Linked DNA regions of Homo sapiens: region 1 is linked to region 2. The links come from fine-mapping of genetic effects on gene expression. A gene starts in region 2. The other region holds a variant in brackets. All regions are shown on one strand. Distances are from middle to middle. Region 1 overlaps LINC02136 (long intergenic non-protein coding RNA 2136). Region 2 holds the start of CALB2 (calbindin 2).

Region 1 (15,997 bases), 50 kb before region 2:
GAACAAAGACTTGAGATTTGCCCCCTCAACTGTCAGAGAAGGAGTTATGGAGGGAGATCGTGGCCTGAGGGTCATGGAGTGGCCAGGGGAGAGTCTTGGTCAGTCACACATTGGAGGCCATGAGAAAGAGTAGTTAGGAGAGGGGTGCTTGAGCCAGTAATCAGATTCAAGTCCCTGTTATGCTCATGTGCCAGCTCTGCCCTTGAGTTTTCTCATCTTTCAATTGGGGAATGGGGCCGGGTGCGGTGGCTCACACCTATAATCCCAGCATTTTGGGAGGCCAAGGCGGGTGGATCATGAGGTCAGGAGTTTGAGACCAGCCTGGCCAATGTGGTGAAACCCCATCTCTACTAAAAATACAAAAATTAGCCAGGCATGGTGGCGGGCGCCTGTAATCCTTGGGAGGCTGAGGCAGGAGAATCGCTTGAAACCAGAAGGTGGGGAGGTTGCAGTGAGCCAAGATCATGCCACTGCACTCCAGCCTGGGTAACAAGAGCAAAACTCTGTCTCAAAAAATAAATAAATAAATAAAAATTTAGAGAATGAATCAAGGCATGACTGTAGGACCAAACGAGTTCACATATGCAAAGTGTTTTAATATGGTCAAAGCATTCAATAAATGCTGCTGTTAATTAGGAGGCAAGAAGAGATTGAAGGGAAATCTCAAGGGGCTCCAGAGACTACTACGATGGTGCAAAGTCACAGAAGCCCTGGGAAAAGCAGGTAGAATGGAGTTGCCATGACATTGAGCCTCACCTAGATGCCAGGTAGGTAACACGCATTATCACAGGTGAGTCTCACTGTAATCTCACAAGGGAATTTCTATGGTCATCCCCACCCCACAGTGTAACAAGCTCAAGGTCCCAAGAGTATGACCTACGTTTCCTGTTCTGGACCTTAAGTTTTATTTATTTATTAATTATTTTACTTTTTTTGAGATGAGGTCTTGCTCTGTCACACAGCCCAAAGTGCAGTGGCACGATCCTGACTTACTGCAACCTCCGCCTTCCAGGCTCAAGCAATCTTTCTACCTCAGCCCCCCAAGTATCTGTGAGTACAGGCATGTGCCACCACACTCGGATATATATATATATATATATATATATATATTTGTGTGTGTGGAGATAGGGTTTCACTAGGTTGCCCAGGCTGGTCTCAAACCCCTGGTCTCAAGTGATCCGCCTGCCTCGGCCTCCCAAACTGTTGGGATTCCAGGCGTGAGCCACCGTGCCCAGCCTGGACCTTAAGAATGAAATCATCCTTGGGTTAAAGGCTGGTCTCCCTTAGAGATGGTTGTTTGCAGGTCACCTTCCAGGGGCTAATACTCTGGCAAATGCTGGTGACCTTGAGATGAATGAGCCTTGATCCGTGTACTCAGTGAGCTCTCAGGATGAGGGTTCCTGTAGCCTCTCTCTTCATTGCATCATCTCCAAAACCTGACAGGACTGATGCTGGAAGGTCTTTCCAAGGCCCAGACTCCTCTCCTGGCTCAAACACTTTCCATGGCTCTCTGTGGCCTCCAGCCCAGGGTCTGAATTGGTTCTACCTGGCCAAGTGCTCTGCCTGCTTTTAGGGTCTGGTCTGTGCCGCGAGCCCCTGTCCCATCCCAGCTTTATCTCCCACAACTTCCCAGCCCTTACCTATGCCCTGGTCATGTGGATCCTTTCCTGTATATCTATACCCTTCATTCATCTTGGTCTTTTGGTCTGAAATGCAGCCCCCTCCTCCACTGGCCCCTGAAACCTAACCCACCCTCCTCCTGCACTGCCTGGACTGCAGGAAACCTTTCCAGGCTACGTATCCAAACTAGTCTTTTTCTCCCTCCTCTGTTTTGCTAGATTTAGAGATGGTTCTAGTACGTGACTCAAGGTAAGAGGTTGTGTTTGACTGATACCAAGTGCGTCTGTCCAGAGTTAGATATGAGGATAGAAGTTCCTTGAGCCAGGGATGGTATCTTAGCTATCCCTGGGATCCCCACAGGACACGTGCTAACAGGGAAATTCAAAGACCCCACCAAACTCCTGCCACCATTTCCTGCCCTCTTGTGCCCAGGCCCACCTCTGGGTTGGAGGAGCAGGGTGCTGTGGGAGAAGGTGCACTGGTCCTGGAGTCAGGGCCTTCAGGTTTGTGCCATCCCACTGAATACATGGCCAATGACCTTGGGCAAAGGGACTCCTGCCTCGGGGCTTTAATCTGTGCATCCACAGACTGTACATATGGCATTGGACCAGGACCTCCCTAGTGCCTTTTTGGTAAAGAGGACCGTAAGTTTCTTAGACTTTTAATATGCAGATGAATTCTCTGGAGAATCTGTTAAATTGCAGATTCTGACTCAGTAGGTTTGGGGCAGGTCCTTATTTCTAACAAGCTCCCAGGTGACCTTGATGCTGGTGGTCCGTGAGCCACGCTTTGCATTAACAAGGGTCTAACCCAGTGATCCTCAGCCCTAGCCCGATAGAAGAATGGCCTGAAAGGTCGCTCTTTCCCTCCTCCACTGCCTTCTGCATTTTAAATTAAAGTTTCCCTTGGGAGATTGTAAAAAGATGTTAGGATGGCACCCCAGGGCCATTAACTCAGCATTTGTAGGGGTGGGAACTTGGCATCGGTAGTGTTTAAAGCTCACCAGGTGAATCCAGTGTGCAGCCAGGACTGGGAACTGATTTACCTCGTGGGTGGAGAACTTTAGCAAATGGTTTTCAGGCGAAGCTTTTTGTCTCTGCTGCCCCCTTGTGGTCATCTTGTTCACTCACAGTCAGAGCGCAAGCCCTGTTCCCAAGAGAGATGGGAATCGCAGAACAATTGGGAAAATAATGTCGCTGCCCATGGTGGACGGGCTTCCCTGAGACCCCAGCACTCACCCTGACATGGGTGGGCTCCTCCTCTGCCGTGATGCTGAAGACGATTCCTTAAACAAGGGCCTCGCTCCCAGTGTCCTGGGGGTAGCCCACATGAGTAGGAAAAACTCTGGGTGGGCCAGGAACTGGAAACAGCAGGGGGCCCTGTAGTCGGCAGCTGAGATAGAGGTTGGATAGAGCAGGTCCAGGAGAAACTTCCTAGGAGAAGGTGGGCGCTGAACCCAACCCTCAGCTCTCCTGGGCGGGAGTCAAGAGAAGTCTTAGATGCAGACGTGAGGTTTGGGTTGCTTGGCGGTCAGCCAGCAGGGGGCACTCTGGCGCCACGTAGAGTTCCCAGGTCGGGTCTCCTAGTCTTCGTCGTCTTGACTGGGAACTGTCCACCCCGGTGCAGGATGCCCCAGGTGCAGTGGAGCAGCTCAGAGCCCCAGGGCGTGACTGTCCGCAGCTGGCTGGCTTCCCTCTGTGCCAGGTGCAGGGTCAAGGATATCCCCATGCACAGAGCCTGCCGTCAGTGGTATGAGGAGTATGAAGGTTCTGATGCTGCTGCCCATTCAGAAATGCAAAATGGCCCAGTACCTTGAGCACAGGTCTAGTCCCTACTGTGCCCTGCCTGGCTGTGTGATCTTGACACATTCATCTCCCCTTTGTGGGCCTGCTTCTCCCTCATCCAATGCATCCCCCAAGCCATCCTGGGCTGTGGTGCTGCTCCCCAGACAACAGGGAGTTGGACTCATGGTTTTGGGGGGCTCACATTGCCCTTAGGGGGCCAGAGTCAAGGGAATCACCTTTTTTTTTTTTTTTTTTTTTTTTTTTTTGCCTTCTGCTGTAGGGCCTGGTTCTGGGCTGGACTTTCCCCATCCTCTTCCTGAAAGCCACCCTTGTTCAATCATGGGGACAAGATACAGTCCAGGAAAGGAGCTAGGGCCCTCCTAAGAGATGATCCCGAATAGGGCCCAGCTGTGGACAGGATGATCTCTTTTCCAGCCGGGCGCCATGGTTCATGCCTGTAATCCCAGCACTTTGGGAGGCCGAGGTGGGAGGATCACTTGAGGTCAGGAGTTCGAGATCAGCCTGGCCAACACAGTGAAACTCCTTCTCTACTAAAAATACAAAAAATTAGCTGGATGTGGTGGTGCATGCCTAGAATCCCAGCTACTTGGGAGGCTGAGGCAGGAGAATCACTTGAGCCTCTGGGAGGTGGAGGTTGCAGTGAGCCAAGATTGCGCCTGGGTGATAGAGTGAGATTCAGTCTCAAAATAAAATAAAAACGCCAAATCCCTTTTCTGTTAGTTGTCAAACACACTAGACATCAGGACACGGTGGTCCTGGCTACATGACTGCCTTGTAACAGTGAGAAATATCCAGAGATGGGATGCATGTTAGAGTTGAATGGGGTTTGTCCCGGGGAGAGAGGGGAACCAAAGGAATAGCAAGAGGGTGGGGAGCTTAGCTTTAAAATAATGTTTTGGCTGGACATGGTGGCTCATGCCTGTAATCCCAGCACTTTGGGAGGCCGAGGTCAGGAGTTTGAAACCAGCCTAGCCAACATAGTGAAACCCCATCTCTACTAAAACTACAAAAATTAGCTGGGCATGGCGGCACATGCTGTAATTCTAGCTACTTGGGAGGCTGAGGTACGAGAATCGCTTGAACCCAGGAGGCAGAGGTTGCAGTGAGCTGAGATCGTGCCACTGCATTCCAGCCTGGGCGATGGAGTGAGACTCAGTCTCAAAAAAAAAAAAAATGTTTTACTCATTTAAAAAATTGGTCTGGTGTACCTACGGCAAATGGGTGGGACTTGCTAAATCTGGTTGGCTGTTGCTTTCTGAAACACAGATTTTAGACTTGAATATATGCATTTGCAAACTCTAAGACATATGCGCCTCTGAACACAGTCTGGGTGAATGCAGTTTGATTGTCACAGGCTTCCGACAGAGTTGCAGGTGTTGTATTGCGTGGTTTTCAACAGCAATCAGACCAAAAGGGTGACTACTAGCATGTGAAAACAGAGGATAAGCTTCCTGGGCTCAAACTCCTGAGCTGGAAGTCAGTTCCAGGCCATAGTGTCCAGCCAGAGGAGGACAGCAAGATCGACTCCTGCGTGACCAGTAGCTCACCTGGTCCAAATGTAGCCTCTTACTATAAAACAAAGGCAGAGAGAGACTGAGGGAACTGGAAAGAGGTTCAATGGAGGAAAAATAAGGCAACCTCAGGGATTCACTTTTACTCTCATTTCATTAAGTTCCAGATATTGGCAGACTGCTGGCCTCCTGAGGAGCACAGGAAGGGGCCTGGCAGACTGGTGATCCTGGTTGGAGATGAAGAGGGGCTGATTAAGAGGAGCTGACTGAGGCTGGGAGGTTTCCTGCCCGGGAGTGGCGAGCCTGTCAGAGCTGCACCTGGGCCTACCTGTACCTAGGAGAGATTCAGGGTATGGTTGGCTTCCCACAAACACCTGGGGCTCGAGGAGTGCGCTGCCTCTGTTCCACACCTGATGTGATCCACATCCACGCCCATGCACCTGGCCAGGAGAGTGACTGTCACTGATGAGGCAGTGTGATAGTACCTCTGATGGTTTCTCTGAGATCAGCCTTTGCACTTCACCTGTGTGGGCCAGATGGAAAGCCAGGGTGGAGACGGAGCACCCTGGGTCAGCTGGGATCCCACCGTGCGATTCCACGGCATGGGGTGTCAGAACCTGGAGTGCCGGTGGTGGCCAGAGCAGGGGTGGGGTGGCATTCCTGTGTCTCTGCCACTCACTGGCTGTGTCACCACAGAAAAGTCATCTAAACCTCTCGGTGCCCCAGTCTTGTTCTCTGTCCATGGCAATTCGGGTAGACCTGACCCGGTTGGATGGCTCTGAGGTTTCAATGAGGTATCATACATGCAAATGGTTTTTTTGGAGCCAGGTTCTTTTTATTTAAAAAGATTTTTTAAAATGGGAATACTCGCTAAAAAGAGTACCTGACCTCAGCTGGGCACAATGGCTCACACCTGTAATCCCAGCACTTTGGGAGGCCAAGGCGGGTGGATCACGAGGTCAGGAGATGGAGACCTGTAGTCCCAGCTACTCGGGAGGCTGAAGCAGGAGAATCGCTTGAACCCAGGAGGTGAGATTGCAGTGAGCTGAGATCACGCCACCGCTCTCCAGCCTGAGTGACAGAGCGAGACAAAAAAAAAAGAAAAAGGAAAAGAACCTGACTTCAGTATCTTTGGGTGTCTGGGATTGAGGAGTGTTCCTGAATGGGCATCAGGGATTGATGAACACTTGTGTAAGAGTTAAAGAAAGAGGAAAAAAACATGAAATTTTTAAAGACAGGTTTACTTTAGATAAAACCTGGAGGGGCTTCTGGCCGATTTTGGTCAGGGGCGCTTTCTGTTACAGACTAAAAGTATATATTGGTTTTAGGGTGAGGGTCTTATCACAAGCTTGGAATGTTTTTGGGTCAGGGAGAAGTCT[A/G]TAGCCGGGTCGGAATGTTTCTGGGCAGAGAGGAGGTTATCTTGGGGCTGACGTCTTTCCGGCAGGAGGGAGGTTAGTTATCTTGGGGCTGGCATCTTCCCAGCCAGAGGGGGGTTATCTTGGGGCTAGCATGTCTCTGGTTGGGGAGGAGTTTGGAATGTTTCTGGTCGGAGATGTTATTTGTAGTTTCTGGTCATGCCGACCTTAGCCATTAGGCTGATGCCTTTTGGCTTTAGGCGGTTTTTGATTAAGATGAATTTTAAAATAAGGTGCTTGTCCACAATGGCAAGGCCCCTGCTCTGTCACCTTGCCCCCCAAAATTGCAAAGCTTTGTTTCTGTGTATGCATGTATAAATATTTTTTTTTCCCTTAGGAGCAAAGGCAATAGCTTAACTAAGATGTTCAGAGGGATCATGACATAAAGACTGGATGCCTGGGGTTGGGGTCAGGGGCGTGTTTCAGGTGCCTTTATTTTATACCAGAGTTTCCCAACCTGGGGAATCTTGCCATGTGGGGCCAAATCATTCCTTGTTGTTGTGGACTGACTTGTGCATTGCAGGGTGATTAGCAGCATCTCTGGCTCTACCCACTAGATACCAGTAGCACCCTCCACCCCATCCCCACCTCGTTTCACCAATAAAAAATGTCTTCAGACATTGCTCAATGTCTTTGGGGAGGTGAGAGTGGGACAAAATTGCCCCCAACTGAGAACTGCTGCTTTGTGATGTTCCTAGTGGAGTTGAGCCCTCGATAAGTGGTTGTTATTTGCTGTGTTGAAGTTTGGCAAGATTTCTCTTCTGGGCTTTATTGATCTCTTCCTATTTCTGTGCACTGCTTAAAGGGAAAGTCGACGACTACAGGGCTTCCAAACTGCAGCCCCATTGGATATAAAGTACGAGTTCCTTAATCTGGTAGGGCAGCCTGATCAACTGGAACTTGGTTCTTACTGTGTTTCTCGTTATGCAAACCTTAAGGATTCCAGCCTGGACAACATAGTGAGACCCTGTCTCTACAAAAAAAAAAAAAAAAAAAAGAGAGGAAAAAAAAAAAGAAACGAAATTCAGCAGAGCCCAGTGGCATGCCCCTGTAGTCTCAGCTATGCAGGAAGCTGAGGTGGGAGGATCACTTGAGCCCAGGAGTTCAAGGTTGCAGTGAGCTATAATTGTGCCACTGCACTCCAGCCTGGGTGACAGAGTGAGATCCTGTCTCTAAACAAACAAACAAACAAACACCCTAAAGGTTTTTGAGAGCATTAAGTGCAACATAAACCTTTCAGTCCTTTACTATTAAAATATGAGCTACAATTAAAATGAAACAGTTAATTTTGTGGGGAGCAAGATCTTGAGATAATCTTCATTTGTGGTGAATACATTTCTGTTTAACCACAAGCCTCAGAATTAGTAGTTCCTCATTCAGAGGAAAGATCAGAGAAGGGTCTTATGGAGAAGGACCAGCAGGAGACAGAGGTGGAAGAGTTGGATGCATTTGAAGTCTCCACTATTTAGGAGGTGGCCTAAAAGATCCTGGGGAGTGGGTGGGCACCTCCTTTTGGCACCCCGGATGTGAGGAGGGTCTCCAACACTGATTTTGGCTGCTGCTTTGTTGCACCATCCTCTATGGATGGTTCGGCTCTTCTCTTGTTTGGCTTCTTATACACCTGCTCTAAAATCTCCCCAGGAATTCCATACAATTCACAGAAGTGTTGCTGCTCTGGAGTGAGAAATGTTCCTCCAGATTTTGGAGAAACTTTCTTTCTGAATGTCTCCAGAGCTTGCTTCGGAGCAGCCCTTCAGTCACAAGTTTAGCAGCATAATAATTCCTCCTTGCTGAGGTTGTCCCAGGAATGACACAGAGCACCAGAAGCAAGCTTTGGAAACACAGCTGGTACAACAAGGAGCGCCTCTATGCCTTGGCGTAGAGAAGCAGGTTCTAGTTTTGCCCTGAGTTGGTTGATGGCCCCAGGTATCACATGGAATATCTTTCTATTACAAGAATCAGCATGGAGTTGAGCTCTAGGACAAACGTCTCAATGGTGTTGGGCATGGCCATTGGAGCCTCCTTTCTGATCATGTAGACCTGGGCCATCATTTGTGCAGCTGGTCCTGTGAACTCGGTGCTTAAGATTCCAATTAGCACCTTGCGATAGCATGGTTGTGCCACAGAAAAAGGTAACATAGGTGGAGATGTCCAGAATTGGGCGAGGTGTGTGCACCGTAGAAATGCTGCTGGCTGTTTTCAAGGCATTGAAGAAGCTCTCTGCAGAGGTGGCTATTATCCCCGGACTCTCTAAATAATGATACTAGAATGTCGGTTGCAGCATGATGAGACCAAATCAGTGTGGAAAGTCATCACCGTTTCAGATATTCTGGTTTCCTGTGAGTGTTGTGGTCACAGTGCTGGGGTTTCAGATTTGGAGTCAATTGCAAACACGCCTCCAAGGATACCTCTCTTAAAGCCAGGCACGCTGCACAGAGGATTGTGGTGCAGATTATCCTAGCAGTGTTGAGTCCTCTCATTTGCTATGTATACAGACAGCATAGCCAATGTTGAAGCACGTCCAGCCTCCAGCCTCCACAGATGGGACCCCAGTCTCCTGAATCTAACTCAGGAGAACCAGGGAGGGAGGCTGAGGAGCTGTTGATTGGGCTGACACTGGATTCGCCATCATTTTGGGAACCGGGTTGGTTCCTCTTTGATACTTTGACACGGTACCTTTTGTGTACTTACCTGCAGAAGTGAAGGTTGCAGCAAAGCACAGATGCAAGGTCAGGAGAGACCCCAGGTGAGCCCTGGGACAAAGTGGAGGGGCTTCCCCAGCAGGCGCAGTCCCCAGTTGAGGTTGAGCTCCCCAGTGAGGGATGAGGACTTTGTGGCTTGGCTCGTGATTGGTGGTGGGAGGAAATAGTTTGGTGGCAGTCTTTTACAGTGGTCAAAAAGATTTTTTTTTTAATCTCAAACCTCAGATTATTGTCTGCATATACCTGCTCAGGCAAAAGGAAGTCCTTATTTAGGGAAAGCACAGATTGTGTTTTTTTCAAGAAGGTTTAAGAAGAACCCTAAGTGGGAAGAAGAAGAGGCTTAGGAATTCCTCCTGGTGGGTGGTGGTCTCCCTTGTCATGGTGTGATCATGGAAATCATGGAAACCATGGGCAGCCTCTGATGCCCAGCTCTTTAGAGGAGAAGGGTCTCTTGTATGTATTGGTGGGGCCTCAGCTGTATCTAATAGGAGGTAGGTACTGCACTGGAGGCCTCAGATGGCCCTAGGAACTAGTCTTGAGGCCTCCAGTCTACACTGGGCCCCTTCAGCAAAAAGAGAAAGACCTCACAGGTTGGCTGTTGGTGGTGGGAGGAAGACCTCACCCATGTGGGTGTAGGGCCAGAACTCTGGTGGTCGAGGGTATCTTCTGGGAAGTCTCTGATGACTGTTACTTCTCAGGGCTGTTTGGAGGGACACAGTTGGTTGAAGAGTCTCTCTTCCTTTGTGTATTTGCCCAGAAATGTGTCTCAAGTGACTCTGTGGCAAGAGCTCTTTTTTTTTTTGTTTTTTTTTTTTGTTTTTTTTTTTGAGACGGAGTCTCGCTCTGTCGCCCAGGCTGGAGTGCAGTGGCGGGATCTCGGCTCACTGCAAGCTCCGCCTCCCAGGTTCACGCCATTCTCCTGCCTCAGCCTCCCAAGTAGCTGGGACTACAGGCGCCTGCCACTACGCCCGGCTAATTTTTTGTATTTTTAGTAGAGACGGGGTTTCACCGTTTTAGCCGGGATGGTCTCGATCTCCTGACCTCGTGATCCGCCCGCCTCGGCCTCCCAAAGTGCTGGGATTACAGGCGTGAGCCACTGCGCCCGGCTGGCAAGAGCTCTTTTAACACCCTGTGCCATGAAAAGGGGTTTGTGGTGTTCTTGTTCAGAATGCAACTTGGAATTGTGTCAGGCCTTTCTTGTATTTCTCACTTTTTATCCAGGTCTTGGATTTTCTGTTTGTTTGCTTTAGATTCTTCAAGCAGCCTCTGCTCTTGCCCCTTGCTGATCAGGTGTCTGTCCACCAGTGGGACGTTTTGCCAGTGACCTTCTTGGAGGCCTGTGAGGGTGTACTTTCATTATCCAGATGAGCATTGATTTGATGCAGGGAGCACTCAGCCTCCTTTGCTGCGATACTTACACGGTCACTCCTGCCCGGCTGACCCATCCTCTCACTCGGGCCTGGAAGGCCGCATTGTTTTCAAACCTCCCTCTTTCTTCCTGACTTTGTTTGCATTGCAGAACCATGACTTGCTGTAGACGGCGTCCTGAAGGCTTGTGTGAGGTTCCTCTTGAATTTTCAGGAGAGCGTTGGCTGTACCTGGGCCTCCCTTGTTCTCCCGGCTGTGGCTCAGTGACACCTCTTCTTTCCATCTGGAAGGGAAGAGGACTGCCTCTTTTAAACCACGGTGGACAGTGTTTTGCCCTCTGGGTTCATCATGAATGGATGTGTCAGACTTTGTTCTCACCCTGAGATTCAACTGCTTTCTGACTTGTGCTTTGGATGCTGGGGAGGGTGAGGCAGGCAAGATGAGGGCAGTGAGTGATAGCAAATGGCACCAAAAATTAGGGTATTGACCCACCAGCTCCTGTCTCTCATTGGTTGTGTTGGATATAAAATACTCCAGGAATAAATGCTCAGTGCCGGGAAGTAAAACCACACGCAGGCAAAAGTTTAATCCTCTCAGCAAGGCAATTTACTTCTGCAGAAGGGTGTCACTTGTGTCAATCAAGATCCCAAGTGCACACAGAACAAAGGAGACCAGGGGGTTTTTATCTTTAACACAGTCCCTATCTCTGTGTCACTCCCCCAGGAGCTGGGGTTGGACCACACAATCTGAGCTGACCCGACTGGCTACTTGTACATATTTTCCTAAATATAGCAGAGGAGGGGGACATGAGGTACAGAGGTGGAGCTTGTGAGACGTGCAGTTTCTGGGGAACAACTGGTACAGGTAACCAAGGGAACAGATGTGAGTTATTGATTAGAGCTGATGGGAAGGATTAGGCTGTTTACGGTAACTAGGGCCAAGGAAAAACAAAGTTGAGTTTGAGAACAAAGGATAAGGAAGTTAACAGGCTAAACCTTTTGAAGAGAAACTCAGAAAGATTTATTGTATCTTACAGTTGAGACATGCTCTGGGTGAGGGGGCCTCCTCTCCAGGATGTGTGGCCTCCCTGCCCTCTTGGGCCATCTCTTTCCCCTGCCATACTTTTGCCTGTGTCTCTGCAGCTTCTTAACAATGACTGTGGCCATGCTTTGAACTACTTGGTTCTTGATTAAATATCCTGTTTTCTGAGCAAATATCCTGACTTCCGTGATTTTCATAAAACCAGAGGTTAAGGAAAGTCACAGTGGAAAGGGAGTCCATTGCGGCCTCCTCCTCCAGGACTCCCAGGGCCGCCTGGTGAGTGAGGCGTCTCTCCCCAAGGTGGTGTCTCTGGGCACAGCTCACAGCCCTTAGGCCTCTGCCCTCTGGGTGCCCACAGCAAGCCCTGGCTGACCCTCCATCCTATCCCACCGTCCCTGCCTTGAGTGACCAAGGACAACTGCAGCAGGGCCAAGGGCTCTTGGGATTTAGGGTATAGCTCTGTGGTCAGGCAGGACTCTTTAAAACTTTAATTTTTAAAACTCATATCTAAAACCCTTGCTTTTCCTTCACCTTGCATTTCAGTTTGCAATTTCTGTTCTGATGAATTTCAGCAAGCTCTTCGGGGAAGCTGATGAGATTCTAGGTTGCTTTCAGAGCAGTTAGTGATGAGGCTGACGACGTCCCCTGCTCACAACAGGACATGTTAATGGGTCCCAGGTTGGAGATAAACTCTTGTCTCCACATTCAAGATGGGGCAGGGCTGGCTTCAGGCCCTGAGCTTGGTTTAATGCTCTGCTGCTGCCTTAATTATTAATTAAATGATTATTAATCATTTAATGTCTAATGACTTTTGAAGAAGAAGGCCCCACATCTTCTCTCAGCACTGGGACTTGCAAATCATTTCCCTGGTCCCAAAGAGGACAGTCCCAAGGCAGAAGCCTGTCCTGGGCCAATTGCTGGGGGCCATGAAGGCCACGGGGACCAGCTTGGCTGAGACAGAGGCTGGGCTTGAGGAGAGAGCAGAGGGGGATAGAGGGAAGATGACAAAGTGGAGACAGAGGGGCTTGCTTACCAAAGGGGATGGATAGGATGAGAGGCCGGCGTTTTGGGTGGGATTCCAGAGGGCAGGAGCATTGCTGTGATTTTTTGCCATCTCGCCAGACGGGGCTCATGTGTGCGGGCAGGGGTTGGGCTGCCTTTGTTCCTCACCTTACCCCTGGGTGTGAGTACAGCACAATGCACAGCCTGTACTAACGCTCAAAAAAAAAAAAGAAGTTGTCATATGACAGCTCGTGACAAAAAAATGTCATCTGAGCAATGTCACAGCTGCACCGTATGACAGTAAGGTGTGTTTCTTTGACAAGCAGCAAGTTTCCGGACAGGAGTGCTGGTTACACAGAAACCAGGGAAGTCGTTTGGTGTTGATGACGAGTGTTTATCTCCATTGCTGGCTTAAAGTGAAGGAGCATGTGCCCTTCGGTCAGTGTCGGTGGGATTGGACCCTGTGACTGCTCTGTGCCTTTGGAGAACCTTCTTCTCTGGGCTCCTGGCCCCTCATGCTGGCTTCTTCGTGTGTCGCTGCTGGGTTCATTGTTCCTCCCTCCCCATCACCCTGGGTACAGGGCTGTCTAATGCATGCACCTTGAACATGTGCCCTTACCAGGAAGAGGGTGTTGTGAGTCCTGCCATCCACTTCTGTCTCCTTCTGCCTGCGTCTGCATTGCTTGTCGTGCTTCCCATTTGGCCAGCGCTCCCGCTCTGTGCCTGCAACTGACCCAGTCCTTTAGTCAATGTCAGTGGCCTCTGATCAGTGTGCTCGCCTCGCCACTGGCCTTCCCTATCCTGCAATGCTGCTCCTTTGGTGACAGACTCACCCCTGCTCCTCACCTTGTGTGGGTTTGCTGGAGAAAATCCTCCCAGATGATGCTGGGAGCCCAGGGGAGGGTCTCTGGATGGCGTCAGCTCTGTCCTGGGGAACTGCAGCTGCAGCAGGGCAGGGGACCAAGGGGGCTGTTGTTCTGTGGGAGGGAGGGTGGAAGCCTCTGATGCAGAGGGTGAGTTAAGCACACTCCGCAGTACATGGTAGGTCACGATCAGGGGGTCTCTGTGAGGTCCCTCTCTTGTTTTATTCCCTTTGAATGAGATTTCTCACTCCTAGGCCTCCCTCTCCCACTGCAGGCATCGTTCCTCTTTGTCTTGGGTGCCTTTAGAAAAATGCTCTAACAAAGCACTGTGGCTGTTTTGCATGTAGGCACTTTTAATTCACATAGATGGTATCATTCTGTATTTCTTCTCCTCCTTCCTTTCTCAATCAATGCTACATTTTAAGGTATGACCTTCCTTTCTACGGTCTTAAAAACTTACTGAGATTTCCCAAAGAGCTTTTGTTTATGTGGGCTAATGCTATTGATGTTTACTGCATTAGAAATTGAAAGGAGACACTTAAAAGAATTCATTTGAAAATAGCAGTGATGGGCCCGGTGCGGTGGCTCATGCCTATAATCCCAGCACTTTGGGAGGCCGAGGCGGGTGGATCACCTGAGGTCAGGAGTTCGAGACCAGCCTGGCCAACATGGAGAAACCCCATCTCTACTAAAAATACAAAATACAAAATTAGCCGGGGGTGGTGGTGCATGCCTGTAATCCCAGCTACTCAGAAGGCTGAGGCAGGAGAATGGCGTGAACCGGGGAGGTGGAGCTTGCAGTGAGCCGAGATCACGCCACTGCACTCCAGCCTGGGTGACAGATTGAGACTCCGTCTCAAAAAAAAAAAAAAAAAAAAAAAAGGAAAGCAGTGATGGACTCATTGCATGTTAACATAAGTAACATTTTGGCATTATTATGAAAATTGTTTTGACCTCACAGAATTCCTGTCCTAGTTAACTGTTTGTTTTAGAATATGAAAGGGCACTGTGAAGGACAAAAATTGGAAAGTGAATTTTATTCTTTTTGTTTTATAATACCTGATTCTGGAAAGAAACTATGAAATGTATTACATTTTAGTAAAATCTGCTGTGGTTTCATGAGCTTGCCTCCTTGGTTACTGATGGATACCACTGCCTAGAACAGGAACGGTTATTCTGGATAGCAAAGATTCTGTGTCATACCAGAATACTTTATAGTGTTTTATGTTTAATTTGTAATGCCCTAGAATAGGACACAACAAAACTTCCTTGCTCATGAACAAGCTATACGTATGCTTCTTTGTTTATTTTACTTATTTTGCAGTTCATGCGTGCATAGGCTTTTTAAGAAATTGAGATCTTGTTCGCCTTTTTAAAGAGTACAGGTCAATGGTTTTTAGTATATCGCTAGGGTTTGCAAACAGCACCACCATTTACTTCTAGAACATTACAAAAGGAAAGCCCACGCTCATTAGCACACACTTCCTGTTACTCTCTCGCCACCCCTAACCCCTTGACAACCCCTGATCTACTTTCTGTTTCTGTAGATTTTCCCATTCTGGCCATTTCATATAAATGGAATTGTACAGTACGTGGTCTTTTATGTCTGGCTTCTTTCACTCAGCATAATGCTTTCAAGGTTCATCCATGTTGGAGCATGTATCAGGGCTTCGTTCCACTTAGGGCTGATTGACACTCCATTGTACGGGTATACCACATTTTGTTTTTCCATTCATCAGGTGATTAGCATTTAGATTGCTCCCACTTGTAGCTATCATGAATGATGCTAGGAACATTTGTGTGTGAGTTTTTATGGGGACGTATATCTTCAATACTCTTGGGTCTGTTCATTTTTAAATGCTTTCTTATCACTTAATTAAATGAGTCACCAAAGATTGTTTCTCAGCCACCCATGAGCACATATTAATCAAGCATCTAAATCTCTGACAACTCTTTAGATGTTGCCTTGCGAAATTAGACAGGAAAAAAAAAATGAAAAGGAATTTTCGGGATATCTTTTACACCTACAATAATTTCCCAGAGGAGCGTTGGAAAATCGCCGAGATTTGTTCTTCCACCTTATGAGAAGAGAGATGCTAGGTTTCTTTGATTGCGTTCCTATTATAAGATTTACATGAGAAGAATTGTCAGATTGGAAGAGATGCTCAGCCTTCCCCAGGTTAAAGTTATGTAGACAAAATGTTATTAATGAATTATTAAATATTTTAGAAAATGTGTGTTTTATGGGAAGTCCCTGGCGATTTGTCAATGCCCTCACCACGCAGAACTTCACCCTCAGGAAAAACACAGATCCAGACTGTTGTGAAATAGTTTAAAAGAATTCTTTTGAAAATAGCAGTGATGGACCCATTGCATGGTAACATAAGTAATATTTTGGCATTATTATGAAAATTGTTTCGACCTCGCAGAATTCCTGTCTTAATTGTCAGTTTGTTTTAGAATATGAAAGGGCACTGTGAAGGACAAAATTTGGAAAGTGAATTTTATTGATGTTGTTTTATGATACCTGATTCTGGAAAGAAACTATGAAATGTATTACATTTTAGTAAAATCTGCTTGCCTCCTTGTTTACTGATGGATACCACCTGAGAGAGAAGTTTACTCTCCTCCATTCTGACATTATTGGTTATAGTAATCAATTAACCACAG
Region 2 (15,997 bases):
TTTCTCTGGGGGGTGGTGCCCAACAATCTATGGATCACACTGTCTTGGTGATTCATCAGTGTGCTAAAATCTGAGACGCATTTGCTCAGTGGTTTTCAAATTTTGGTCTAGGCCAGACATATGAGTGTCACTTGGGGGCTTCTTAGAAATGCAAATTCTAAGGACTACAGAATCTGAGTCTCTGGGGATGGGGTGCAGAAGCCTGTGTTCTAAGCAGCCCTTCAGCACACTCAAGATGTTGCGTCCAGTCGCTTCTAGTGCACCAGTCTGTGTAGCACTCGCAGTCCATAGATTAGAGAGGTCAAAGGAGGGAAGGTTCGCACCTTCCTCCTTGAGCTGCACCAGAATTTCCTCGTTAAGGAATTTCCTCGTTAAGCTGCACCAGAAGGCATCCAGGAGGCCAGGCCGCTTGTCGGTCTATCTGGAGTTCAGATTTATCGAAGGCAAACAGTCCTCTAACCTCCATCTGGAGCACCCTCTGGGACAGTCAAATCCTACCCTTTGGGGTAAGAAATTGGCTTCCCCAGGCTCTGCCCCAGTATTAATCCTGCTTTGCTTGGTGCGCACCATTCCCAAAAAGCTTTCCACTTCCCACCTCATCTGTTCTTTACGACCCTGCCAGGTAAGCAGTTATCAACCCCATCTTAGAAAGGAGGAATCGGAGGGGGAAGGAGATTCAGCCACAGCTGACAGAGGTCCTGGCCTCCTTCTATTTGTCCCAGGGACAATGTCTGTCCATATCTGCATTTGTCCTGGCTTCTCTCTCTGACACACACACACACGCTTCTTCCAGTGGCTTCTGGAAAAAAGAATAAGCCCCAGAGTGAAGAGCTACCAGCCACCAGCTGAATGTTTGGGCACTTGAATTTCAATCTATGTTTCTGGGCTGTGCTGCTTTGGACCCGTGGTTCTGGAGCTGGGCTGGGTCCCCTGAACCTGTGGACATCTGGCAGCCTAATGCTGGGCTGAGTCCCAGGCATGAGGGAGGCCAGAAGGATAGGGCAGATTGGGTGAGAGGGGAGATAGTGAAGAGCCAACAAGGACAGAGGGAGGGCTGAAGCCAGAGGCCCCAGATGGGCCGGCTTGGCAAAGGAGGGCCTGGGATGCAATCCGCCGGCAGGCTGGGGCTGGAGAGGCACTGTTCTTGAAGAGCCTCAGGCCTGCTCTATTAATTCTAGCTCCTTTGGTTTTGGAATTGATTTCCCTGAGGGGTCTCCTTAGCCCTGGAAACCTCCCTCAGGGGCTTGGCTGGTAAAGCTGCTGAAGTCTGGAGGGGAATATACAAGCTGAGCAGGGCAGGGACAGCCGGCCTGGCTGTCAATATCAAGGCAATGCAGGGCTGGCATCTTGTTTGTGAAACGGGTCCCTTAGGCGGGCTCCCCCGGGGAGCCCCAGCTCTTCACAGACCAGCTGCTCCCCGCTGCCGGCTGGTGCAATCAGAGTCTGAGAAGCAGAGCCATAGCAGGCAAGAGCCCACCTGGAGGTACCCAGCGTAGAGCTGCTGCACGTGGACACTCCACAACCCAAGGACGCTGTTAGTGAAAAAACTGGGGAGTTGGGGGAGGGAGCAGAGGCAGGGGTGGGGGACATTTTCCAGGGCCTACCCCAGATGGGTCAGGCGGCTGTTCCCTGAGAGCCTCATATCCTGACATCACGCCACGCCCAGCTGAGAGGTATACAGACCCCCAGAGGTTCACTAACAGGGTTCAGAGAAAGCGCTCCTCTGACAACTTTAATCTTGGTTCCCAGTGTCGGACCCTGTTGATTTTAATGGGCCAAGACCCAATCGTTTTGATAAATCCTATGATTACCTTATAGCATTGTAACTGTTGTGTCATTTATATAAACACTTAATATACATCACATATTTTGTGACCCTATTTCAGCATGTGTTTCACTTTGGTATTGCAGGACCTCTCATGCAGCCGCCCAGGGCCAGTTGCCCAGGTTCCCGTTCATCTCTGAGAGGTGCTGCTGTTCTAAATTTCCTCCCCATTCCCTAAACCAGGGACAAACAAATGAGCAGTGACCCGTGCCCTGGAAGAGCCTGCCTGGGCACTGCAGTCTGGCCCTGAGTGGTCCTCAGTGTTGTGTGGGCTTGGAGAAGACTTCTGCCAGGTCACTGGGTTTCAGAGGGCGAGGATGGGAGCCTGCGTAGAGCCATCCTCAGCCCTTTGTGGCCTCTGTTGTTATTTTCAAAATCCTCAGGGTCCACATAGATAAGGAACAGGACTCAGTCCCTGTGAGAGGCTTTGAGCACCCCCTACGTCACCTGGGCCACTTGGAGGTGGACAGAAGCCCAGAAGAGTATAGGCAGATCCCCCCACCTGGAGACATATACATATTTCTTACAAGGGAAGAAAAGGTGTCTATCACATTGTTTTCTTCTTATATCTTTATTTATTTAGTTAGTTATTTTTTTAAAGATAGGGTCTGGCTCTGTTGCCCAGGCTGGAGTGCAGTGGTGCAATCATAGCTCACTGCAGGCTTGGACTACCTGGGCTCAAGCCATCTTCCTGCCTCAGCCTCTCAAGTAGCTGGGACTACAGGCGTGCGCCACCACACCTGCTTAATTTTTAAATTTGTAGTAGGGGGAGGGGGGGTCTCACTGTATTGCCCAAGCTGGTCTCGAACTCCTGGCTTCAAGTGATCTTCCTGCCTTGGCCTCCCAAGGTGCTGGGATTATAGGCCTGAGCCACTGTGCCTGGCCTCCCTTCTTATATCTTTATTGTTTTGCTGACTACACAGGAAATAGATGCTCTTGTAAAATTTTCAAGTGCTATGGAAATTAACTTAGAAAGTAAAAGAAAATCCCCTTTCATTTGGCTCATCCACTCTTCAGAGAGAGCCGCTATTATTCAGTTGTATTTTTCTAAATATCCTGCAACATACATATATCATTCATAATAAAAACGGGCTTATAATAGTGTTCAGCTACAGTTTTAAACAATATCTTAATAATACATCTTGGACATTTTTCCATGTCACTACAAAAGCTTCACTTCGCTCTATCATACTCCATCATAGGGATGACCATATTTATTTTTCTGTCCCCCAGTGAAGCACATTCTCCCCTCCACCCACTGAAATTGTTAGTATTTCCGAAGAACACTGTAATAGACATGTTTGTTCATATAACTTTCTGCGCACATACGAGTATATCTATGTAGGCTAGATTCTTGGAAGGGAGTAGGATGTTCACCTTGGCCCCATGAATGTCTGCTTGCCCCTGGAAGAGAACTCATCTTATCTTTACATTCTTAGTTGCTTTCAAAGGGGTAGCAAAAGCTAAGGCATTTCTCTTTGGAGCCACAACTTTGCTGCTCGCAGATGGTCAGTAAAATAGGAGCCCGGTGGCCTGTCTAATCAGAACCATAAATAAAGGACAGTGTGAACTCTGAACTGGGCATCCCTCAGCCACCTGGATCCTTTAGAGGGGGAAAGGTCCTGATACAGAAGTGTCCAGGAAGCAACAGAGCAATGGGCTCAGATACGTAAGGCCACGTCAGGGCCACTCGGAGCATGGAGGTGATGTTCGGAAGAGCCCTAGACCCCACCAGGGTCACTGGGTGGGCTTGGCTGTCATCTTCCCTACCTCAGCCTTTGAGAGACAACATTGGAACCCTCCCAAACGCATGCTCTTGGCTGACTGCTGAGGCAGAGTTGGTGGAGTGGTATTGCGGACTAGGAGACCAGATTCCTGGTTCCCCCTTCACCTCTTCCTGCTTTGCTGTGTGATCTTGTGAAAAGAATTTTGCCTCTTTGAGTCCTAGTTTCTCACTCTCCAAACATACACTTCTTCCTTTCTCTACCACAAAGCTAATAAGAATTTTGAAAATAATCCAACTCTTTAGGGTGATGGTGGCTTTTTCTGTTTTGGAATGGGCTAAGGGTCCTCCTGCCCCCATCCTCCCTCTCGTTGGGATTCAGCTGCCTCCTAAGGTCTCTTTGTCTTTGTTTACTACCAGCCAGCATCCAGAAGGGGTGGGGAGGTGGCTCCAACTCTCTGGGGGCTGTGGTTAATTGGGCTCCAGCGAGCCCACTCCAGGGACCTGGAGAGCTGCAAGGGAGAGTTCTCTCAGGTGTTTTTAAGATTGTGAGTGGTAGGGGGTACTCTTAGAATTGGGAAGAAACCCCATGTTGAAAACGGAAACCAGAATTGGTAGGAGAGAGGCCTAAACAGGGCTGGGAGTGCCTCAGGCACTGCGGTGTTGGGCTCACCTGGCAGCCTTTGGGTGTTCAGGAGGGGAGGAAGGTCGCCCAAAGCCTAATTCTGGATCCTTTTGTGGAATTCCGATTTGGCTGTATACATATCTTCCTAAGTCACCTCTCTCTCATCTCTGGTATTTTAATCCTCATGGCCCTCCTTCTCTGTCGGGTCCATGGCCTTTCCTTGGGACTTCCCTGAGGCTGTGATGTAGAGATGGCAGTGGAAGTCTGATGGACAAGGAAGAAGGTGCAAGCATCAAGCTCCCCCTTCACCCCGGAGCAGGAGGGAGCCAGAGGCACAATGGCTTTAGGAGGCTTTGAAGATCATGGGTTTGGTGGTAGCTTAACTACACTCTAGCCAAGCCAAGGACCCCATTTTGGGATACACGAAACTGCCCATCAACCCCAAGGGTGGGCTGGGGGCTTTTCTTTGGGGGAATGGGAGGGAGACTTATACCTATCATCATGGAAAAAAACCCTCTTCCAAACCAAGCAGGTGTTCAGGAACCAGAGTGGGAGAATAAACGCTGGCCAGGAACCAGCCCCACCAGTAACTTGCTCCATGACCTCGGAAAAGTCAACCCCTGTGTCTGTTTCCTCATCTGTATAAGGGGAGTCATGGTCTGCCCAGCAGCCTCACACCTTGAGAAGGTGCAATTGTGCTTAAGTACAATGTCTCAGATCAACGTAAGGATCTGCGTGGTTATGGACAGTGCTCTTGCTTGTCCCTCTGAGAATGGGGGAAAGTAGAACTATAGAGTCCTCTGTTTATAGCTGACTCATCTACCAGGAAGCCAGTGGTGTAACCTTGGCTGCTTGGTAACTTTCCTTGAATCATGCAAGTCTGGTGCAGATAAACTGGCAGGAGCCTCCTTAGGGAATGTGCATGTCATCTGGAATACTAAAAGGCTGCACTTCTCTTAGGAGAGCACTTTGTACCAAGGGAATTTTATGGCAGGAGCTGGGGATTGGAAACACAATCCCTCCTTAGCCCCATTTTACAGATTTAACAATCTACCCACTTCCATCAGTAATTCATAGGCAGATCACAGTCCTAACTCAGGTATTCAAATGCCTAGTCCCCTACCCCTCTAGCTTTCTCAGTTGGCTCCAAGGAAACAAAATTTCACCCATTAGCATCCCCAGACATTAACCCCTGCCTCCCCATAGCACTCTGGGCAGAGGATCTCTGCCCAGCCACCTCCACACCCTGCCAAGGCGAGGAAGGGAGGAGGGAAGAATGGAGTGAGGCACACCTGATGCCCCTCTGTTTTCCATCCCCCTTGCTCTCAGACCCCAGGATAAACTCCCTGTCATCCCACACAGATCTGGGACAGGGGCCTGAATGACAGGTGTCAGAGCCCACAAGGCTGAGCCTGGCCCCCTGGGGGGCTGTGCAGTGCAGTGGTTAAGAACTTGTCTTCTGGAGACAGCATCTGTCTTAGCCTTTCCCGTTGGCCTCCCTTTGGGGTCAGCCCCTCCAGGAGCCATTAGCTACCCGAGGGGAGGGTAGCTACAGACACCACAAAATGTCTGAGATGCCAGGATATTTTGGATGCTCATCTTAGCCAGGTCTGTGCGTAGAGAGGGAAATCAGATCACTTATTTTTTCGGAGTAACAGAAACAGAGTCTCTAGTGATATCAAAAGCCTCTAAAGGAGGACCACCCTTTATGCCTGAGTCAGACCACCACAGACACTTGGAATCCCAGTGCTGGGGGCTACCTCCAAAGGTCATTTGGTCTGGCCCTTGCTTTTTGGGTGAGTCAGTGTCAAGACCACACAGAGCAGAGGGTTAGTCACTGAGGCACTTAGGGTGGTGCCTCCCCCTACCCAGAGATGAAGTCACCAAGAGTACCCAGGATTATCACTATGAGGGAACAGGTCTGGGACTGGCACCCCAACGCTGCCCGCCACCACACCCACTGCTGCTGTATTGGGAAACCTACATGCCCACGGCGGCTGGAAAATGGACAAAGGAAGCAGGGGGGTGTTCAGGGCCCCCAATGCCATTTTCCACTCCTGCTCCCAGCCAATCAAGCTGGGGAGGCCACGTTTCCCTTCAGGATCCCCTAATTTATCCCAGCCTCCAGCAGGGTAAGGGGGCTAACCTAGCATTCAACAAAAGGGGAAGAGGAGGAAAGAAATGAGTGGTCTTCTGAGACCTGTGGCTGGAGCAGCTGAAGGCAGGGGAGGTGGGGGAGATGGCAGGGGGAACCTGGAGGCCTTCCCAGCCCAGGCCACCTCTCTGAGAAAGCTCCCACTTGCTCAGAATAAAGGTGCAAATGCGGGTGGGCTCTGGGTCATCTATGTTAGGGAAGAAAGTTACTGACAGTTGTGCCCAGAGCAGCCGGATGTCTCCCAAACCCGGGACCACTACCCCAGCAGGCTCTGCGACCAGACCACCTCCTGAGGGCAAACGTACACCTGCCCGCATTCAGCGCCGCCCCCTGCCCCCTTCACCGCAGGTCCCCTGGGTGCCAATGGGCACAGAAGTTGGGAGCTTTACTGACCGTCTGCGTCAAAGTGCTTCCATATTTCCAGGAACTGGGACGCCGTCAGCTCGGCCAGGTGCAGGTAAGGGGGCTGCTGCTGCGGGCCAGCCATGGCGAGCCGCTCGGAGACCTCAGCCTGCACCGCTCCCGCTCCGCGCCGGCTGGGCTCTGGCACTCGCGCTGGGGTTGTGCGCCACGCTGCCCTTATATACGCTCTGGAGCCTGCGCCTGCGCCCGGCCGCCAGAAGGGGGCGCGCGCGCTCAGGGAATCCGACCGGGGCGCGGCGCGGCGGGGGCGGCGGCGCGAGAGGCTCGGCCCGGACTCCTAGAGGGCCCTTACCTCTGCGCTGAGACCCCTCGGCGCGGGGCCAGGGACACCCGGAGGATTTTCGGTGAAAATGAGGGAGAGGCTGCCCTTGCCTTCCCTCCCGACCGTCTTGAGTACATCCACCACTTATTATTGCTGGCAGTAGCAATAATAATAACAGCAGTAACAACACTAATAGTAATACTAACACAAACTTGACAAATATTTAGCACTCGGGCTTCGGAGTTCACTAGGTCTCTGTCGTGCCTCCTCTCTTCTGATCCTTCCACAGCAGGAAGAGCTGGGACCACTTTTCTGATGAGGTACTTGTGACTTCAGATGATTAAGTGACTGGCCCAGCAAATTAGTGGCAGGGCTACAATTTGAACTCAGCACTCTTTCCACGCCGCACGTGGCTCCTTCATGGGGCTCAGTCTTGCAGAGCAGCCAAGAGTTCTCAAGGCTTTAGTGGGGAGCAGCTGGAATCAGCAGTGCCCCGGGAGGATTCCGATGGAAGTGGTGTGGGGTGGGGGTGGGGGGCTTCCACTGTCTGTTTGGGTCTTCGTATATCCGTCCCCTCGGAGCCTCCCTCCACCCCTGGTACCTGCCTCACGCTGGCCATGCTCTGGGGGGCTTTTAGACATTTGGCCAGGGGGTGGCAGAACTAGATCAACCCGTACCAGGTCTTAACCACGCCCACCTAGGGACATCGTGGGAATGTGCCTGCTCCAGTGGACAGAGAACAACGTCCAACTCTGTCTTGGGGATGTTCTGAGCTGGTCTCAGAGAAAATAGACGCAGCTACTGAGCGCACATCCTGAGGGCAGCAGACAGGACTCCCCAGCAGGGAGCTGGGCCCTCTCCCCATTCTCTCCTGCGGTCTGAGCCCTTAGGGGTCTGTCCTGGCCTTGTGGTGTGGTAAGGTAAGACACATTACCCACAGAGTGACAGCATCATCCCTCCTTTCTCCCCTCTCCTGCTACGGAGTGACTGAGACATGAATTGGCGATCTTTAACATGTGCTAATGAGTGTTAGCTGAACCACCTTCCAAGAGGAGAGTGAAAGGCAAGGAGGTAAGTGAGAATGAAAAGGAGGTCGCTGGGGGAGAGGGGAACCCAGGAGGAGACAGAGAGAGGGTTGTCCCTTGGAGAGAGGGCCAAGCCCAGAGCGAGTCTCAAAGGGGCAATAGAGAATGCAGGTTCCAAAACCACTTGTTCTTTGCCTAGGGTGAATGTGTTTAGAGTTACTTGCAGGAACAGACTGGGGGGAGAAGTCATCAAAAGCTAGCTTTAGAGGTACCCATCCACCTTGCTGAGAGATTCACCAAAGTCCCTAGGGAGGCAGGATGACTCAGTGGTTAAGAGTAGGCACTCAAGAATCAGGCTGCTTGGGTGTGAATCCCAGAATAAGCTGTGTGACCTTGAGCAAATTATATAACCTGTCTCTGCCTCAGTTTTTCTCTTCTGCAAAATGGGCATGTGGGCATACGCCTTTTAGAATTGTTGGCTGGGTGCCGTGGCTCATGCCTGTAATCCTAGCACTTTGGGAGGCCGAGGTGGGCAGATCACGAGGTTAAGAGATTGAGATCATCCTGGCCAACATGGTGAAACCCAGTCTCTACTAAAAAAAAAAAAAAAAAAAAAAAAAAAAAAATTAGCCAGGCGTGGCGGTGCATGCTTGTAATCCCAGCTACTTGGGAGGCTGAGGCAGGAGAATCGCTTGAACCCGGGAGGCGGAAAGGTTGCAGTGAGCCAAGATCGCACCACTGCACCCCAGCCTGGGCGACAGAGCGAGACTCTGTCTCTAATAATAGTAATAATAATAATAATATAATTGTTCTGAGGATTAAATGAGTTAGGGCTCCTGCCGCCCTTCATGGAGCCAGTGATCAGTGGTTGGCTTGGCAAGAAATTTCTCAGTCAGCATCACCTCCCCTGGGGTAGCTAATGAATGGATCCTGGAGGGGCTGACCCCAACGGGAGGCCAACGGGAAAGGCTAAGACAGATACTGTCTCCAGAACACAAGTTCTTAACCACTGCGCTGCACAGCCCCCCACGGGGCCAGGCTCAGCCCTGTGGGCTCTGACACCTGTCATTCAGGCCCCTGTCCCAAATCTGTGTTGGGTGAGAGAGCTCATCCCTGCTTCTCCAAGAAGCAAAGCCAGTGTCTCCATGCTACTTTGGTTTTCCTGGTGAGGAGTAAAGAGTGAAGCTCCTACTTCCTGCTTTCCAGAGCTGTTGAGATCAGGGGGACATGGTTCTGGGTATGACAGTAGGGTGGCCACAGTGACCTTTAAACTGTCTACTGGGACAGTCTTGCCTCGTTCATTTCAGATGCACAGTTGGTCTGTTTCTGGGAGGCCCATTCCTGGAGGACTGAGGAGCCCAAGCTGGTGCGTTTGTGGTTTATCTCCAAGTTGAGTCCTGCAGAAACAGCCACATTGAGCAGTTACAAGTTCCTGCCCTGGAGTCAGATAGATATGGGCTCAAAACCCTCTTGCTGGTTGTGAGGCCTTGGGCAAAGCTATTTAACCTCTTTGAACCTTTCTAAAAATCAAGGTAATTAGTTTCACAAAGTCAGTGGAAGCACCAAAAAGAATGTAATCAAGGGGTTAGCTAGCAAGAACCCCAGCAGCCGTAAGTGCTTAATTAATAGGCAGGTATTCTTACCAATGCAAGGATGTGAGGAGGGATTTTTCTTGTTGTTCTGAAATAGTGGCAGTTAGGCCACATCTGGAATCACAGCAATCAGATGCCTCGTGTCTTCCTGGCTTGCTCAGCCTGCCCGCCACCACCCACCAAGGCCAGGGATTATCAGGGGAGATGTCTGGGTGCGGGAGAGAGGAGCATTGGCCTTCTGGGAGTGCAGCATTTGTGGCTGTCCTGAAGTCAAGTTTTGTTGGAGGAACCCCCAGAAATCCCCTTCAGGTTGTGGGGGATTTCAGCAGCAAGGAGGAACTGGAGATGTCACCTGGCTCCAGAGTGGGCTGGGGTGAGCAGTGTTCTGGAGTTTGGGCCACATATGGAGTTGGGACTGGCGCTTGCTTCTGACTCAGAGCTGTCTGATGGCCTATGAAAGCAGCTTAGACTGCCCTGTCCTGCGTCTAGAAGGAAGATGGGAGCCACCATGGTTCTCGGCAGCCCTTGGGGGTTGCTATGGCTCCTGGGAAAGGTGCATATAGTTTAAAGAGGGGGCCGAAGCCAGATACCTGCTGGTGTTTATGATATCCTCGGTGTTGAGGAAGCTAGAGCGGAGCTGAAGACCGCTCCAAAAAACCTTCACTCCACTATGCACAGGCCCTCAAATTCCTCAGAGATCAGCAGCGGGAGCCAAAGCCTGGGATGCTCTTACAACCTGCAAGCGACCAGAGAGGTAGGAAGACCTCCCGCCCCTCATCTCTCCTTGCAGCTCCCTCTGCCCTACCAGGAGGGGATGTCTTAGAGCCAGCCATCCCTTCTCTCCAGGCTCAGCTCCAGACCCAAGCTCCTTGTCCAGTTTGCAATGGGAAAGGAGAAGAGCTTTGCATTGGAGAAGAGACTGGAGTCTTAGCTGGACTGGTCCAAGTTTCAATAACCAAATGTGTGAGGAGAAACATGGACTCAGATAAGAAATCATTCAGAGATAGGAAAGAGAGGTTCGATGAGCGTATTTTAAAGCAGTGACGGTAAAGACGGAACATTTATGAGCACATTTCCGTGAATTAAGGCTCTTGTAAGTAATTTCAGATGTCTGGGGTTCTGCTTCCCTTCCAGGACTTCCCCTCGAGTTTTATTACAATAATGATAATGATGATGATGACGACAATGATGGCGATAACCGTGAGGATACCTTTAAATGCCTTTACAGAGGGTTTTGATGTGTCTTGCTTTGTTTGGTCCTCACAACTCCCCTATCAGGTGTGCAATGCAAGAATTTGACCCATTCCAAAGATAGGGAAATCAAGGCTCAGAGAGATTAACACCCAACCAAGACCTGGGAGGGGTGGGGTACCAAGAACACTTTGTCCCCTCCAGTTTCCATGGTATATGGAGTCTTTGTGGACCAGGTGCCAAGCTCCTGGGCACTATGTATAAAGTTCTTCCCGGACCCTGGCCACTGGAGCCACAGGGCCCCTCCCAGCGTTAAGGAGTAATGCCAAGCCCACTGTTTACCCACCAGTTCTCTGATGGCTGGTTCCTCCCTCCACCAGAAGGGCAAACTGGGGACCACCTTCACTTTCGCATCCCCAGCCCACCAGCTCATTTGAGTGCTGTGATCTGACACCAAGGATTGGCAGGGAGACTTGCCCAACTGTCCCTCTGCCCCAGGACCCTAGAATCACTCCCTCAAGAAGGGAGGGAGGCTTGGTGACTGAAGTGGTGAGATGTCAGAGGACAGATGACAAACAACTTTCCAGCCAGGATCCACTGGGCTTCGGTAATTGGCTGAGCTCCTTAGAGCACCTGGTGTTATTTTGGAGCACTTCAAAGGAAAAAATACGAAGCCTGACCTGGTACCTCCCTATGCCTAGAAGTGTTTCTTCCAGATATTGCTTCTTTGGTTTTTATAATGGTCAGGCCTGGCTACCGGAGTGCTGGAGAGCTGGCCTTGCTTCCCAGAAAGGAGGATGAAAGGGATGCAGGAGCCCAGCAGTTTCCATGGAAACGGACTGAGGTGGTGGAGAAAATAGAGAAACCAGAGGAACCCAGAGGTGGAAGCAGGACTTGTGAATAACCCGGTCTGAAACTTGAGATCTATGGACAGCTCCCTCTGTGCAAAGGATTTGGGTCACCAGGATAGCAACAGGAGGTGAAATAGCAGTAGCTGGGGGCTGTTGGGTGATCCTCCCTCCGCAAGCAGGGACACAGGGGCTGAGGGCTCAGGCTCCAGAATTCCACAGGCCCCTTTCAGCTCCTGGATCTGCTTTTTATCGGCAGTTCTACTATGTGTTGGCTTTGTAATCCTGGGTAAGGTGTCTACGCTCTCTGAGCTTGTATTTCCTCATTGGTAAAATGGGGATAATCCTAGTAACTGCCTCACAGGCTTTGTGAGCATTAAGAGAGGTAATGCATGTTAAGGGTGATGCAAGGCCTGGAACAAAATAAGCATTCAAATGTTATTACAGGGGAGAAAACCGAAGGCAAGTGATGGTGAGTTTAATCCAAATGAGTGCAACCCATCTCCACCCTGGCCAAAGCAACTGGTTCAGGGATAGGCAATGAGACATCATATCCCAGAATGCAAAGGAGCTACTGGGACCTCCTGTCTATTTGCAGACAGTCTGGTGTGAAGCTGTGAGGTCTGGAATCACTGCAGCTATCTTGACACCATGAGTGCAGAGCCTGGAGTGAGGGAAATGGGAGAGAGCACAGAGTAGACACTGAGGTTGAAGCCAATGTTGCAAAAGGCAGAGCAGAGAGACTGCAAGAAGTCAGGTCACAAGTGACATCATTTGAACTGCTGGATCAAGCTGAGCCTGAAGTACCTTTGGACTTCTCAGTTGCACGAGTCAATATATACCCTTTAGTGTTCAAGCCCATTTATGGTAGGTTTTCTTTCATTTGCAACCTAAAAGACCTGACTGATAATCCATGAAGAGGACAGTTGTCCTCATGGGAGCTGGAAACAGGCAACCTTTTGGAACCAAATTTCTCTGTCCCTCTTTCTCTTAGAGCACAGGGCCACTCCTTCACAGATTGTCTCTGTGTGCACTGTGCCTCTATTTTCTTCTCTCCCTCCCAGCAGGCATCCTTACAACCTTGCCCTTTACAGTCACCAGCCACAACTTGTCCCCAAGACTCCTCTACCTTCCATTTCCCCTGACAGCCTTGCCTCTGTTTCCATATTCCAGACTCCCGAGAGAAAAATCTGGTTGGTCTAGCTTATCTTTTCATGTGAAGCCATTCAGATCATCAGCTGCTGTCCTGCCTTGCAAGGCCGCCTAGGGTTGGACACCCATCTCTTAGTCCAATCAGCTGTGGCTGGGGACAAGTCTCAGGAGGGCAGTGGGCAGCACAGAGAGGGGCCTATTTCCCTTAGGGACATCTATGGGCATGGTGAAAGTAACTGACACCTCTAGTGTTGGGTGCTCAACACAGAAAATTCAAACAAGCTGCGGAACATGTTTGCTTTAACATTGGGTGAAAAAAAAACATTCGGACAAACGAATTCAAATATAAAAGGGAGAGTCTGGGGGAAGGGTGTCATCTAAAACAGGAGTTGGCAAACTTTTTTTTTGTAATGGGCTAAATAGGAATTTTTTTTGAGGGGGGCTGCTTCGTGGGCCGTAGGTTCTCTGTCTCAACTACTCAACCCTGGTATTATAGTGCAAAAGCAGCTATAGATAATATGTAAACAGAGCAATATGACTCTGTTCCAATAATACTTCTTTTAGTAGTAGTAGTAATAATAATAATAATAAGAAGAAGAAGAAGAAGAACTTGGTGGACCTAATTTGGCCTGTGGGACATAGTTTACTGGCCCTCATCTAGTAAATGAATTCTAGGTTCTCTCTAATCCTAATGAAACCTGTGTAGAAGGATTGTTGTAATGATTCCATAAAATAATCTATGCAAATTACCTAGCACCGTGATTGGCACAGGGTCGATGGTGTTGGCTGTTTTTGTTCTCTTTTTTGTCGAGTGGGCTCTCGGAATAACTGGGTTCCAGATCCACCAATGTGCTTGGCTAATCTAGAAGAGTCCCTTCATCTTCTCTGAGCTGAGCTGGAAGTTGATCATATCACTCCATATAGTGAGATGGGATTTCTAAGGAAAGGAGGTGGAGGACGAAGAGAAAGGTGCAGGCAAGGAGGACACAAGGAAATGTAGCGTGCATGAGTGCAAATCCACAGGGCGTCCGTGTGAGGCCGGCTTGGCTCTGCCTGGGGGCCTGGCAGGGAGCCCTGGGCTTGATTTGCAAACAAATTTGCTCTATTTCCTGCCAGAACAGGACTTCCAGGTGGCCAGGAATTTGGACTCCTTTACTAAGGATGGGAAAAATGTCCCTAGAGGGACAGTGCCCCACTTCCAGGATTCCCCAGAATGCAGCAGGAATGTGAGAATGAGATGTTCAAAGATAAGGGCTGCATTTCATTCACTCATGAATTCATTACAAATTTTATTCATTCATGCTGTGTAAAAAATATTGATTAGCCAGCTACTTTGTGCCAGGCACTGTACTAGCAAAACAGAAATGATTCCTCCTTTCAGGAGTTTAAAGTCCAGTGAGGGAGACAGACATTGATCAAACCACACAATCACACATATAAGTGAAAACAGAGTGAATATCAGGGAGCGACCGTATCTAGCATGAGTAGGAAGCCATCCTGAGAGTGAACTAACCAGGAGGAGGGAGGAGGTGAGCATTCCTGGATTTAAACCCCATGCACCAAGGCTCCGTGCTGGCAGAGCTGTAAGAAAGCCAGAGGGATGGGAGATCAGTGGGACGAGTGGGTGCATGGTGGAGGTGACCCTGGAGAGGTTGGCAGGGCCAGACGCTAGAGCACTGGGAGCTATCAAAGGGTTTTCTGCCAGCAACAAACATAACCAGGATTATGGTCTCCCTCTGGCTCCTGTGTAGGGGGTGACTAGCGAGGAGTCTAAGTGGACACAGGGAAACCTATCAGGTGACTCCCGAGACTGTCTGGGAAACACGGCCGTACCTGGGCCTCCAGAGGGGCAGTGGTCATGGAGCAAAGTGATCAGGAACTTTGTAGGCAGAAAATAGGATTTGGCCATGAGTTGGATATGGACAGTGAGGGAGAGGGCGATTCCCAGTTGGTATTGGCACCTGGGAGAAAAGCAGACACTGACTGAGATGGGCGATGCTGGCAGAGGACTAGATTTGAGAAGGATACACCCTGCATTTGTTGGATGTGTTGAGTTTGAGTTGTCTTTGAATCAATCTACTGTGGACAAATGTTTGTATCCCTTCAAAATTCAGATGTTGAAAGCCTAACCCCTGATACGATGGTATTCAGAGTGGGGTCTTTGGGGCATGATTAGATTATGAGGGTGGAGCCCTCATGAATAGGCTTAATGCCCTTATAAAAAGAGGAAAAGGCAGGGCGTGGTGGCTCACGCCTGTAATCCCAGCACTTTGGGAGGCCGAGGTGGGCGGATCACAAGATCAGGAGTTCAAGACCAGCCTGGCCAACATGGTGAAATCCCATCTCTACTAAAAATACAAAAATTAGCTGGGCTTGTTGGCGCACGCCTGTAGTCCCAGCTACTCAGGAGGCTGAGGCAGGTGAATCGCTTGAAGCTGGGAGGCGGAGGTTGCAGTGAGCTGAGATCATGCCACTGCCCTCAAACCTGGCGACAGAGCTAGATCCCGTCTCAAAAAAAAAAAAAAAAAAAAAGGAAGAGACACAGAATCTCTTTCTGTGCCCTCTGCCATATGAAGATACATGAAGATATATGAAGATACATCTGCAAACTAGGAAGTGGATATTCACCAGACACTGGATCTGCTGGCATCTTGAAATTGGACTTCCCAGCCTCCAAAACTGGGGGAAATAAGTTTGTGTTGTTTGAGCTACCCAGTCTATGGTATATTTGTTATAGAAGTCTGAGCTGACTACAACATCATCTAAGGGAATGCATAGACCAGGCAGGGGGATTTATGGAGCCAGAGTTTGGAGGAGAGGTCTGGGCTAGAGAGGTAAATTTGAGAACCCCTGGGTGTTGAAACTGCACCTGGCCTAGCCTTACACACTTGGCTGGTTTTACCTCGGGGGTCCTCAGGTGCTATCTCCAAGCCCATTTCCCACTGCTCCCATGCCCAGTAGCTACTCAGGGCAGAGGCAATGGCTCCAAGGTTGAAGGTGTCCGTAGCTTTGCTCTTCAAGTTTCAGATCCATGAGTCTCACTAAAAGAGAAAGTAGTTCCTTCTAAGATGGACATGTTGGCTAGAACCATAAATGGGCAAGTTTAAGATATTTCTTCACCCCATCTGCCCTTCCCTTGAGGAAGATCAGATCAATTACAGTAAAACAAAGGAACG

The links. PIP is the estimated chance that this variant, and not a neighbour inherited with it, causes the effect.
Region 1: its variant is fine-mapped to the expression of CALB2 in atrial appendage (GTEx, PIP 0.98).

The regions. Positions count from the first base shown.
Region 1 is chr16:71,399,635-71,415,631 of GRCh38, reverse strand. LINC02136 (long intergenic non-protein coding RNA 2136) reads left to right here. Exons shown (of 3, transcript NR_146574.1): 2 at 637-767; 3 at 5,098-5,191. Among named protein-coding and RNA genes, the nearest start is that of LINC02136, 19 kb to the left of the region's middle. RefSeq lists enhancers at 2,946-3,035, 3,109-3,610. The variant A/G (reference allele first, on the strand shown) is at 6,316.
Region 2 is chr16:71,349,611-71,365,607 of GRCh38, reverse strand. It overlaps CALB2 (calbindin 2), which reads right to left and starts at 6,885. Exons shown (of 11, transcript NM_001740.5): 1 at 6,722-6,885. The coding sequence starts at 6,815. RefSeq lists enhancers at 4,868-5,162, 6,189-7,154 and a silencer at 6,857-7,086.